2 linked regions of the Homo sapiens genome follow. Each later gene encodes a partner of the first gene's protein in a complex. Each region holds a gene or a part of one and is shown in the gene's direction. Other genes may lie near its edges.

Region 1 (6,869 bases):
TAACTTCTACGGTTGAACATATATACCAGCAGCTCTTAACAGAGGTGATTTTGCCCCCTAGAGGACACTGGGAATATATGCAGATATTTTCAGTTTTCACAATTGTGGGATGTTATTGGCATCTAGTGGGTAAAGGTCAGAAGTTGGAGTTCTTGTTCTTGGTGGGGTGTTGTTTTGTTTTGTTTTGTTTTGTTTTTTTGAGTTGGAGTTTTGCTCTTGTTGCCCAGGCTGGAGTGCAATGACGTGATCTCATCTCACCACAACCTCTGCCTCCTGGGTTCAAGCGATTCTCTTGCCTCAGTCTCCCTAGTAGCTGGGATTACAGGCGGATGCCATGAAGCCCAGCTGATTTTTGTATTTTTAGTAGAGACTGTGTTTCACCATGTTGGTCCAGGCTGGTTTCGAACTCCTGACCTCAGGTGATCTGCCCACCTCAGCCTCCCAAACTACTGGGATTACAGGTGTGAGCCACCGCACCCAGCCTGTTTTTTTGTTTTTGTTTTTTTTTTTTCTTTCTGAGACGGAGTCTCCCTCTGTCACCCAGGCTGGAATGCAATGGCATGGTTTTGGCTCACTGCAACCTCCGCCTCCCGGGTTCAAGTGATTCTCCTGCCTCAGCCTCCGGAGTAGCTGGGATTACGGGTGCCTGCCACCATGCCTAATTTTTGTAGTTTTAGTAGAGACGGGGTTTCACCATATTGGCCAGGCTGGTCTCGAACTGCTGACCTCGTGATCCGCCCACCTCGGCCTCCCAAAGTGCTGGGATAACAGGCGTGAGCCACTGCGCCTGGCCATATTGTTGCTTTTGAAACAGGGTCTTGCTGGAGTATAGTGCTATAACAATCGTAGTTCACTGCAGCCTTGACTTGAACTCCTGGGCTCAAGAAATCCTCTGGCCTCAGTCTCCTTCCTCTTGCTGTAGCTAGGGCTACAGGTATGTGCCACTAGTTCCAGCTAGAGTTTTTTTTTTTTTTTTTTTTTTTTTTTTTTTTTTTTTTTTTGAGAGGGAGTCTTACACTGTCGTCCGGGCTGGAGTGCAGTGGTATGATCTTGGCTCACTGCAACCTCCGCCTCCAGGGTTCAAACGATTCTCCTGCCTCAGCCTCAGTAGCTGGGACTACAGGCGCACAACCGCCATGACCAAATAATTTTTTGTATTTTAGTGGAGACGGGGTTTCATCTTGTTGCCCAGGCTGGTCTTGAACTCCTGAGCTCAGGTAATCCGCCCGCCTCGGCCTCCCGAAGTGTTGGGATTATAGGCGTGAGCCACCGCGCCCGGCCTTTTTTTATTTTTTATTTTTTGAGACAGCATCTTGCTCTTGCCCTGTTGCCCAGGCTGAGGCCAGAGATTTTGTTAAATAATGTACACTGTGCCCGGTTCAGGAGCATTAGTTTTATTAGGCTGCATGAAATGTATCCACTTAAGACTTTACCAGGCTGGGTGCGGTGGCTCATGCCTGTAACCCTAGCACTTTGGGAGTCTGAGGCGGGTGGATCACCTGAGGTCAGGCGTTCGAGTCCAGCCTGACCAATATGGCGAAACCCCGTCTCTACTAAAAAATAAAAAATTAGCCCGGCGTAGTGGCGTGTGCCTGTAGTCCCAGCTGCTCGGGAGGCTTAGGCAGCAGAATCGCTTGAACCCGGGAGACGGAGGTTGCAGTAAGCCGAGATCGTGCCACTCCACTCCAGCCTGGCGACAGAGCAAGACTCTGTCTCAAAAAGACAAAAAAAAAAAAAAAAAAAAAAAGACAAAGAAAAAAAAAAGAGAGAGAGAGCTTGTTAGATCTTAGTGCTATATTTCCTTGATTATTTTTATTTTAAGGCTGACAAAATGCCATTTAAGATAATAAAAGTAGTTAAATTGCCTGACCAAGAGCTAGATAACATTGAGGAAAAAGTATTGGCAATATTCTTTGGTCTAATACTGCTATATACCAACCATTTTACCCAATCATTCAAATAGGCTTAGTAATACAAGGGCGAAAAAGGAAAACTACAGCTAATAGTGCTATCCTTGTTCTTTTTTTTTTTTGAGACGGAGTCTCGCTCTGTCGCCCAGGCTGGAGTGCAGCGGTGCAATCTCGGTTCACTGCAAGCTCCGCCTCCCCGGTTCACGCCATTCTCCTGTCTCAGCCTCCCGAGGAGCTGGGACTACAGGCACCCGCCACCACGCCCGGCTGATTTTTTTTTTTTTTTTTTTTTTTTTTTGTATTTTTAGTAGAGATGGGGTTTCACCGTGTTAGCCAGGATGGTCTCTCTCTCCTGACCTGGTGATCCACCCGCCTCGGCCTCCCAAAGCGCTGAGATTACAGGCGTGAGCCACCGCGCCCGGCCTATCCTTGTTCTATATACTGATTACGCATACTATATATGGACCTTTTCCTTCCTCAACCTTTCTATAGATTTCTAAGAATAAGGTTTTGATGAAGTAGTTTATGTATCCTTCTTTTTCAGTTAATCCTAATGGAAAACGGTTGGAAAAATGAAACAATTATCTTACAACTTATTTTTCTCTTTCCTCTCCTCCCCTCTCTCTAAAAGAGTGTGGCTCCTTCCCCTCTCTTTTCCCCTTCCTCTCTCTAGAGTGGTTAACTCTCAAACTGTATTTAACTCTGGAAAAGTTTTCAATTACACAGGCGATAACTCCAACTTGAGGTATAACGGAAACTTATTAAGAGAAAAAGAGCAAAATAATTTTTTTTTGAGACTCAGCAAAATAATTTTTTTTTTTTTGAGACGGAGTCTCCGTCTGTCGCCCAGGATGGAGTGCAGTGGCGCGATCTTGGCTCACTGCAACCTCCGCCTCCCGGGTTGGAACAATTCTCCTGCCTCAGCCTTACGAGTAGCTGGGATTACAGGTGTCCGCCACCACTCCCGGCTAATTTTTGTATTTTCAGTAGAGACGGGGTTTCGCCATGTTGTCCAGGCTGGTCTTGAACTCCTGACCTCAGGTGATCCAACCACCTCGGCGTCCCGGAGTGCTGGGATTACAGGCGCGCGCTACCAAGCACAGCTAATTTTTTTTTTTTTTTTTGAGACGGAGTCTCGCTCTGTCTCCCAGGCTGGAGTGCAGTGGTGCGATCTTGGCTCAATGCAACCTCCACCTCCCGGGTTGGAACAATTCTCTTGCCTCAGCCTTCCGAGTAGCTGGAATTACAGGTGTCCGCCACCACGCCCGTCTAATTTTTTATATTTTTAGTAGAGACGAGGTTTCATCATATTGGCCAGACTGGTCTTGAACTCCTGAACTCCAGTGATCCACCCACCTTGGGCTGCCAAAGTGTTGGGATTAGAGGCTTGAGCCACAGCGCCGGGCCTTCAGGGGTATCGATTTTGTTCCCGTGCCTCTTGTGTGTGTTCTAGTGTGGAAGTGGAGGCGATTGCTTTCCAGCACAAGCCCGTTTGACTGTCGGGGTTTGGACAAGTGGCTGCGACGACACTAAGGTGGAGACCGGGATGTAGCGAGGACTCCCAGAGTTGGGAGACGTTGTACGCTTACTGGGACCTAAATCCCGCACGAGTTCCCACCCAAGTGCCGCCGCCCCAGCCTACGCACGCGCATTCGCACCGTCTCCAGCCCCGGGGTCCTCCTGCCCCTCCCGCCGTCTCCGGGGGCCTTTTCTCCGCTCGGCACCAGGGTGTCCCCGGCGCCGCCTGATCCTGTTAGCGCGGTACTCTGAGTGCAGTCAGTCCTCGGCGCTGTTTTCCCTGATTTGCTGTCGACGCCAGGAAGGAAGGACGCGTGCAGAGGACCGCAGAGGGGTGGCCGTGGCTGAGAGGAGACAGCGCCGCAGCACTGAGGGTTTGGGCTTGCAGGCGCTGCAGGAGACGCCCAGGCGGAGTCTTGTCTCGCAGCCAGCTCTGAGCGGGAGGCCTGAGCGGGAAGCATTGGCGTCCGAGCGACTTCTAGGAGCCTGGGGTTCGGCGCTATGGAGGAGCTCGATGGCGAGCCAACAGTCACTGTAAGGGTACCCCGAACAGGCTTGCTCGTCCTTGCGGGTTGAGAACTGCGTCTGCTTAGTTACTTCAGGCTTGTCTGCTTCCCTAGTGGTCGCGAGGCGCTCGTCCCCTTCCCTCGACTCAGTTGCCACTTTTCCGGAGGTCGCAGTGTTAACGAGGTGCCCGCCCTAGGGTCGCAGTGGTCGCGGGGTTTCTGCCACCAGTCACAAACCCCGGCCTCGAAGGTCCCACTCCGTCCCTTTCCTTCCTTTGTGTTCCTGGCCTTTTTACTTCCCTTGCTTTTCCTCTTGGGCATTAGAGTGGGTTCAGCCCAAGCAGAGGAATTTATATTTTTATTCCAGCCGTATTAAGCTCTGCATCGCGGCACATTGAGCTTCTGCCTGTGTGGCCTAAGGTTTATTCAACGTATTATCTCAGGAGACTATTCCTGTTTTATCGCTGTGCATTCAATTCCATTTGAACTTTGAAGACAGTATGTCAACTGTGGATGATCTGTGATGTGTATAAAAAAAATTCACGCGCTTTATGTACGAGATACCTACCGTTTCTGCTAGTTGGATTGCTCTTGTTTTCCCTCTTGTTAACCAGAAGTGACTGAGGCAGGTCTCAACCGATAAAGGTTTAATTAGCTAAGGTTGAGGATCCAACCGGGAAAAAGCACAGGTCACAGGAGGATCTGAGACCTGTGCTTTTTCCAAAGATGGTTTTGGGAACATCACTAGTTAAAGAGGAAGGAGCTAGCAGGAGGGGCAAAAAAGGGAGGTTAGGCAGTGAGGAGGCAAATGATTACATTCTTGTGAGTCGGTGATTAGCCTCAGTAAATCTGCATTTTACCTGTGAAAAGAGGGAGCAGAGGAAAATTTTATGTATGCATTCATCTCAGGGTAGGTAGAGGGATTATGGTTATTATTACTGTTATTTTTTAGACGGAGTCTCGCTCTGTCTCCCAGGCTGGAGTGCAGTGGCGCGGTCTCGGCTCACTGTAACCTCCGCCTCCCGGGTTCACACCATTCTCCTGCCTCAGCCTCCTGAGTAGCTGGGACTACAGGTGCCCGCCACCACGCCCGGCTAATTTTTTGTACTTTTTTGTATTTTTAGTAGAGACGGGGTTTCACCGTGTTGGCCAGGATGGTCTCAATCTCCTGACCTCGTGATCCGCCCACCTCGGCCTCCCAAAGTGCTGGGATTACAGGCGTGAGCCACCGCACCCGGCCGATTTCTGGTCTTTTACTTGTGAAGATAAGCTGGTAGTTGACATTGTCAGAATCAACAGATCTTGATTTTAGGACTAGTTTATAGGGGCGATGTGTATCCTGAAAATTTTAGAGGCTCACAAGGAATTTCCTTGTGAGCAATTTGTGAGGGAAGCTCTCTGGGGAGATATGTGGCCTTCTTTTTTTTTTCTCTTGAGGCGGAGTTTCCCTCTTGTCGCCCAGGCTAGAGTGCAGTGGTGCGGTCTCGGCTCTCTGCAACCTCCGCCTCCCAGGTTCAAGCAATTCTCCTGCCTCAGCCTCCTGAGTAGCTGGGATTGCAGGCATGTGCCACCATGCCCGGCTAATTTTGTATTTTTTTAGTAGAGACGAGGTTTCTCCATGTTGGTCAGGCTGGTCTGGAACTCCTGACCTCAGGTGATCTGCCGGCCTCAGTCTCCCAAAGTGCTGGGATTACAAGTGTGAGCCACTGCGCCTGGCCTCATTCTTTTTTTGAGACGGATTCTCACTCTGTCACCCAGAGTGGAGTGCAGTGGCGTGATCTCAGCTCACTGCAACCTCTGGCTCCTGGGTTCAAGCGATTCTTCTGCCTCAGTCTCCTGAGTAGCTGAGATTACAGGTGCGTGCCACCACACCCAGCTAATTTTTGTATTTTTGGTAGAGATGGGGTTTCACCATCTTGGTCAGGCTGGTCTCCAAAGCCTGACCTCGTGATCAGCCTGCCTCGGCCTCCCAAAGTGCTGGGATTACAGGCATGAGCCACCGCGCTTGGCTAGGAGTTCGAGATCAACCTGGCCAACATGGTGAAACCCCATCTCTACTAAAAAAATACAAAAATTAGCCTGGTTTGGTGGCGCGTGCCTGTAATCCCACCTACTCAAGAAGCTGAGGCAGGAGAATCACTTGAACCCAGCAGGCAGAGGTTGCAGTGAGTCGAGATTGCGTCACTGCAGTCCAGCCTGGGCAACAAGAGTTCGAACTCCTGACCTCAGATGATCTGCCCGCCTTAGCCTCCCAAAGTGCTGGCAGGAGCCACCCCGCTGCCGGCCCAAAATGAATTTTTCTTACCAGTGTTATAAGGAAATGTTATTGAAGGATACAGTGTTATTAGAGGACCAGCTGTGCTCTTCACTTAAAGTGTTTTTCAGCAGGGCGGGCACGGTGGCTCGCGCCTGTAGTCCTAGCACTTTGGGAGGCTGAGGCGGACGGATCACCTGAACTCAGGAGTTTGTGACCAGCCTGGGCAATATGGTGAAACTCTATCTCTACTAAAAATGAAAAAAAAAAAAAAAATAGCCGGGTGTGGTTGCACACACCTGTAGTCCCAGCTACTCAGGAGGTTGAGGCAGGAGAAGCCTTTGAACCCAGGAGGCGGCGATTGGAGCAAGCTGAGATTACACCACTGTACACCAGCCTGTTAGAGTGAGTCTTTGTCTCAAAAAAAAAAAAAAAAAAAAAAGAATGGAACAACTTCAGTAAGAAGAACATTTTTCATTTTAGATTTCTATGCCTTATTTTACTAGTTGATTCCAGGCGTGAATTCCAAGAAGAACCAAATGTATTTTGACTGGGGTCCAGGGGAGATGCTGGTATGTGAAACCTCCTTCAACAAAAAAGGTAGGGTTTTTTTTCTTCCAAATTATCCATCTTGGCACATTTGGTTGTTTTTCTGTTTATTACCTCAGATTTTACTAGTTG
Region 2 (5,419 bases), on another chromosome or scaffold:
TTTGTATTTTTAGTAGAGACGGGGTTTTGCCATGTTGGCCACGCTGGTCTCGAACTCCTGACCTCAGGTGATCTGCCCGCCTCGGCCTCCCAAACTGCTAGGATTATAGGTGTGAGCCACAGCGCCTGGCCGGATATGTTTCTATTTCTATGGAGAATGTCATTGGTATTTTTGGTAGGGATTGCATTGAATCCATAGATTGCTTTGAGTAGTATGGCCATTTTAACAATAATAGTTCTTCTGATCCATGAATATAGGATGTCTTTACATTTGTTTGTGTTCTCTTTAATTTCTTTCATCAGTTTTTAGTTTAAAAATATAGAACACTTCACAAATTTGGGTGTCATCCTTGTGCAGGGGGCCATGCTAATCTTCTTTGTTCAAGTTTTGGGTATGTGCTGCTGAAGTAAGCACTGAAAGAACTTTTCTCACAGGGTCTTTTAACCTGTTCCTCCTACCAGGCTTTCTTGGCTTGCTGTTTAACTGTGCTCTTGGGAAACCTCTTTTTACCATTCTTTTGGAGATTCCTTTTAGCTTCGTAGAGGAACCCGTTTCCTGGGTGTCATGTCTTTCCTGTTACTCCCCTATTTTCTGATACAGCACATCTTCCAGTGATTCTTGAGGGTTCAGGGATGGAAAACATTGAGGCCATACATCTCTGCAGGGATCTTTATTCTCTCCCCATGTTTGGTAAGATTTTGATTGAATATAGATGTAGATTGGAAATCATTTTTATAATTTTGAAAGCATTTCTCCATTGTAGACTTTTCTGGCTTCCAGAGTTGCCTGAAGTCTTGATCTTTGCTCTTTGGCCTGTTTCTTCTTTCTGGAATTGTTAGACTCTCCTCTTTTGCCTCCATTGTTCTGATACATCAGGATGTGTCTTGATGTGGGTTTGTTTTTATCGTTTGTGTAGGGAGTGCAGCATGCTCTTTTGTGAACTTCCATTTTGGGGAATTTTCCTGAATTATTTATTTGAAGATTTTGTCCCCTAATCCTTCCTTTCCTTCTTACCTTTTGTCTTTGTGTCATACTTTCTCAGATTTATCTTTCATTACCATTCTGTTGAGATTTTAACTTCTGCTGGGCGCAGTGGCTCACGCCTGTAATCCCAGCACTTTGGGAGGCCAAGGCGGGCAGATCACGAGGTCAGGATATCGAGACCATCCTGGCTAACACGGTGAAACCCCATCTCTACTAAGAAATACAAAAAATTAGCCAGGCGTGGTGGCGGGCGCCTGTAGTCCCAGCTACTCAGGAGACTGAGGCAGGAGAATGGCGTGAACTCGGGAGGTGGAGCTTGCAGTGAGCTGAGACCGTGCCACTGCACTCCAGCCTGGGCAACAGAGCCAGACTCCATCTTTAAAAAAAAAAAAAAAAAAAAGAGAGATTTTAACTTCCACTATTTCTTTAATTTCTAAGTATTCTTTTTTATTTTCTGGATGTTTCCTTTTTATGCCCCTCTGGGTTCCCCCCCACCCAACTCTCCAGTGGATGAAGTATTCATTAAAGATATGGAGTTCAGATTTTTCTCCTTAAAATTTTGTTTCTTTGCTGAGTCAGTTTTCCCAAAATTGCTTTTATTATTTTTGTCTCAGTGTTTCTTATTAAATACTGTCCTCAAATGCCTGGTACTCCTTGGCTACCTGTAGTTGTTATGAGTGTAGGACACGTAAATACCACTTAAATCCTTTCTACATTGATAGGGCTTACAGATCTTGAATTTCATTGTAGATTTATCTGGTTTATCTAGCATTATTTTACTTGGGAAAGTTTGGATGTTAGTATCCTTCATTCTTTTCACTTAGTCTGTCAGATACCCCAAAGAAGATGCATCCAGTCTCCTGCATGGAGGGTATCAGAGAACTTCATTTGCCAGTGTTCTGGGAGCTAAGATTGGGAAGATGGCTGGAGCGCTCGGTATTTTGTGAATATCGAGCTACACTTAATTCCTGTTTTCAAAATGATATTCTTGCCCTTAACTGTATGTGGTGTCTCCCAGTCCAGACACTTCTACAAAGACTAAAACACTAAACTTCTGTTCTGGTGCGGTGGAAGAGGAGAATTACCATCTTTTTTTTCTTTTTTTTTCTTTTCCTTCTGAGATAGGGTCTCACTCTGTTTCCCAGGCTGGAAGGCAGTGGCAGAGTCAGGGCACACTGCGTCCTCGACCTCCTAGGCTCAGAAGATCTTCCCACCTCAGCCTCCTGAGTAGCTGGGATTACAGGTGCACGCCACTACGCCTGGCTAATTTTGAAAAATTTTTTATAGAGATAGGATCTCGCCATGTTGCCTAGGTTGTTCTCAAACTCCTGGGCTCAAGCAGTCCACCTGCCTTGGCCTCCCAAAGTGCTAGGATTATACGCATGAGTCACTGCACCCACTGATAATTACCATCTTTGTGTTGGTGTTGGGAGGGATTGATTCTGGGTATCTGCTTCTAAACATACTCTGCCATCCTTTTTTTTTTTTTTTTTTTTTAATTCCCACTACATCCTCACTTCCATAGGTATCTGGAACCTAAACATTTTGGGTATGTTTGGTGTAAATGCAATTGCTTCTGTTCTTTCCCTACTGCTCGTTTAGTATCAACTCTAGTCAGCCTTCCAGCTTCTAAACCTATATCTTTGTAAAAATCCCTTGTTGTTTTAATGCACTTTTCAAAGAAGATAGAGCTAAGTGTATTTGTTGATTTCACTGTCTTTAACCATAAGTCCAGGGTGCCCTTTTCCCCTTGGTCATAGGTAAGTTGTGTGATTTGTTGGAGGTGTCAAGTATGTACTATGTGTCAGTGGAGAAAATAGTTTTCTTTAGATTAAAAGACCAGAATATTTTAATTCTTTGCATGTTTTTATATGTAAAGGTCAGAGTCTTTAATTTAAAAACCTATCATGTTGCGGCCGGGTGCAGTGGCTTACGCCTGTAATCCAGCACTTTGGGAGGCCGAGGTGGACAGATCACAAGGTCAGGAGATCGAGACCATCCTGGCCAACATGGTGAAACCACGTCTCTACTAAAATACAAAAAATTAGCCAGGCATGGTGGCACGCACCTATATAGTCCCAGCTACTGGGGAGGCTGAGGCAGGGGAATCACTTGAACCCAGGAGGCAAGGGTTGCAGTGAGCCAAGATTGTGCCACTGTACTCCAGCCTGGGCAAGAGAGCGAGACTCCGTCTCAAAAAACAAACAAACAAACAAAAAAACCTATCATTTTGCCCTAATGAAGTATTTCTGCTTTAACTATTGCAGGTTCGGCTTTCCAGTTTGGCAGCAGCACTACAAATTTCAACTTCACAAACAACAGTCCATCAGGAGTGTTCACATTTGGTGCAAATTCTAGCACACCTGCAGCCTCAGCCCAGCCTTCAGGCTCGGGGGGCTTTCCATTTAACCAGTCTCCAGCAGCATTTACAGTGGGGTAAGAGAATTTTTTATTGAAATGGAGAAGTTACATTGGTAAGGGTATGTGCATGTATATGTTTTGTTTTTAAAAGTCATCAAGATTCCGTATGGTTTGGGTAAAATTAAATATGTTCTCCAACATAAATTTACCATACTATAATTCTGGAGGATTATATTACAGTTTGAGAAAAAAATAACAGTAGCGTGTGTGTTAGGTGTAGCAGAAAATGTATATACCAATGTGAGTCTACTCCCCCCCCACCCGACCCCCCTTACCCTTGTGCTGCTCATGGTAAATGTTAGCATTTGGAAATTTTGCTCAGAGCATCATGTCACATTATGAAGTTTTTATTTTTCACAGGTCAAATGGGAAAAATGTGTTCTCTTCTTCTGGAACTTCATTCTCTGGTCGCAAGATAAAGACTGCTGTTAGACGCAGGAAATAAAGGTCACATTGGTGTTGTACTCAATTTTAACAACAGCTGGTGCCCTGCTTTCAGATACTGGATTGTACTTTGTGCTGGGGTTATCTGAAGTCAGATCTGCCTAAGGACTTCTTTAATTTTGGAATTTTCCTCCTTTCTCTTTCGTTACAGAAGCCCCACCCTGCCTCACCCACCCTTTTTTAAATAAATAAATAGCTAGACTGGTGACTGATTCTTCAGCAAAAATATTTTATGATCCAGCAGATTATTCACTGATTTGACATAGTCTGGCTGTACCCAGGAATGGAGCCTGCACGGTGAATGGCTTTGTATAGAACCTCTTTGTCTACACCATTATGTGCGCTGATAAGCGTTCATGGAACGCGTTGAAATTGTAATTATATCTGAGGAATTCTGTATAGATTAGAATTCTGTATAGATTAGAGAGTGTTGAAACGGATGATTTCTATGCTGAGTTTGTGCTGGTGTATGTGTGAAGTGAGTGAGTTGGGTGTATTGTGCGCTAAACTTTTCTGATAGAGGAAGCCTGATTAAAGAATGGTCCGTGCTAAGGACTTGTTAGATCTAGTTCACTCTCCATTTAATAATTATATGCTATTTCTATATTTTCATTCTCCTATCACCTGTCTTGCCTTTTTCATTATTTTATTATGAAACTTGTGTAAATACAATTTTGTTTCTGTACTTTTTGGCATAACATAAATCTGTGAACTTGAAATTTGAATTTTGTGTTAGAGATTTTTTTGTTGTTTGTTTAGTCTTGTCTCAGATTTTATTATGTAAATCCCATTATTCAAAGTTGCCTAAATCCATTTGGAAATCTTTAAAAAAAAAATTGGGGATTCTTAAAGTTGAATTTATTGGCTTTTCTGATCCAGTTTTGTTTGGACCAAAAACCAGTATTGTACAAAGTATTAAGCATATATTTTTATATTTACTAAAATGGACTGTGGTGACTTTGGATAATAAGGAAAAGTTTAATATTAAAGCCATGTTTATTACAGTATAATTAACATGTTAAACCATGGGATAAATGCCATCAATAAAAAATTATGACATACTTTTTGTTCTAGTTTTACCTCATAATGAAGGCACACAGTATTATTGGGGGGACTTTGTAAAATAAAGATTAACAGTGTCTCATTAGAAGAATACATTGACATGATTTAGACAACTCCTAAGAGAAAGGGAAAGTATCTGAAAGTATCTGAATGCACAACATATAGAAGGTACCCTACTTCTTGCCTGGTGCTAGGAATCATGCCTAATTTGCATATCGACTTAGGTACCTTTTTTAAAAGTTGAAAATACACACATTCATTTCTCTTTGTGCTTCTATCTTCCTTGGTAAGTTACTGGATAGTGTTTATTAAAGTTCTTGGAAATACATACACAAAAACTACAGTTGTCTCTTGGTGTGTGCAGGAGATTGTTCCCAGAACTGCACTCCCCCCCCCCCCCAGTTCTCCCGCCCCCAAACCACAATCCACAAATTTCAGCAGTGGACCCTGCAGAACCTGAGTATACCAAAAGCCAGCCCTCCGAATGTGCAGGTTTTATATCCCACGA

What was found. Proteins that work in one complex are often made in the same cells at the same time.
Region 2: NUP85 (region 1) and NUP153 share a complex: the UniProt entries of both Homo sapiens proteins name them as parts of the nuclear pore complex.

What each region holds. Positions count from the first base shown.
Region 1 is NC_000017.11:75,201,833-75,208,701, forward strand, and holds the start of NUP85 (nuclear pore complex protein Nup85), read left to right. Parts: upstream 1-3,846; 5' UTR 3,847-3,929; coding exon 3,930-3,962; intron 3,963-6,694; coding exon 6,695-6,788; intron 6,789-6,869. UniProt on the Homo sapiens protein: Essential component of the nuclear pore complex (NPC) that seems to be required for NPC assembly and maintenance. As part of the NPC Nup107-160 subcomplex plays a role in RNA export and in tethering NUP96/Nup98 and NUP153 to the nucleus.
Region 2 is NC_000006.12:17,614,528-17,619,946, reverse strand, and holds the end of NUP153 (nuclear pore complex protein Nup153), read left to right. Parts: intron 1-3,251; coding exon 3,252-3,420; intron 3,421-3,765; coding exon 3,766-3,850; 3' UTR 3,851-4,910; downstream 4,911-5,419. UniProt on the Homo sapiens protein: Component of the nuclear pore complex (NPC), a complex required for the trafficking across the nuclear envelope. Functions as a scaffolding element in the nuclear phase of the NPC essential for normal nucleocytoplasmic transport of proteins and mRNAs.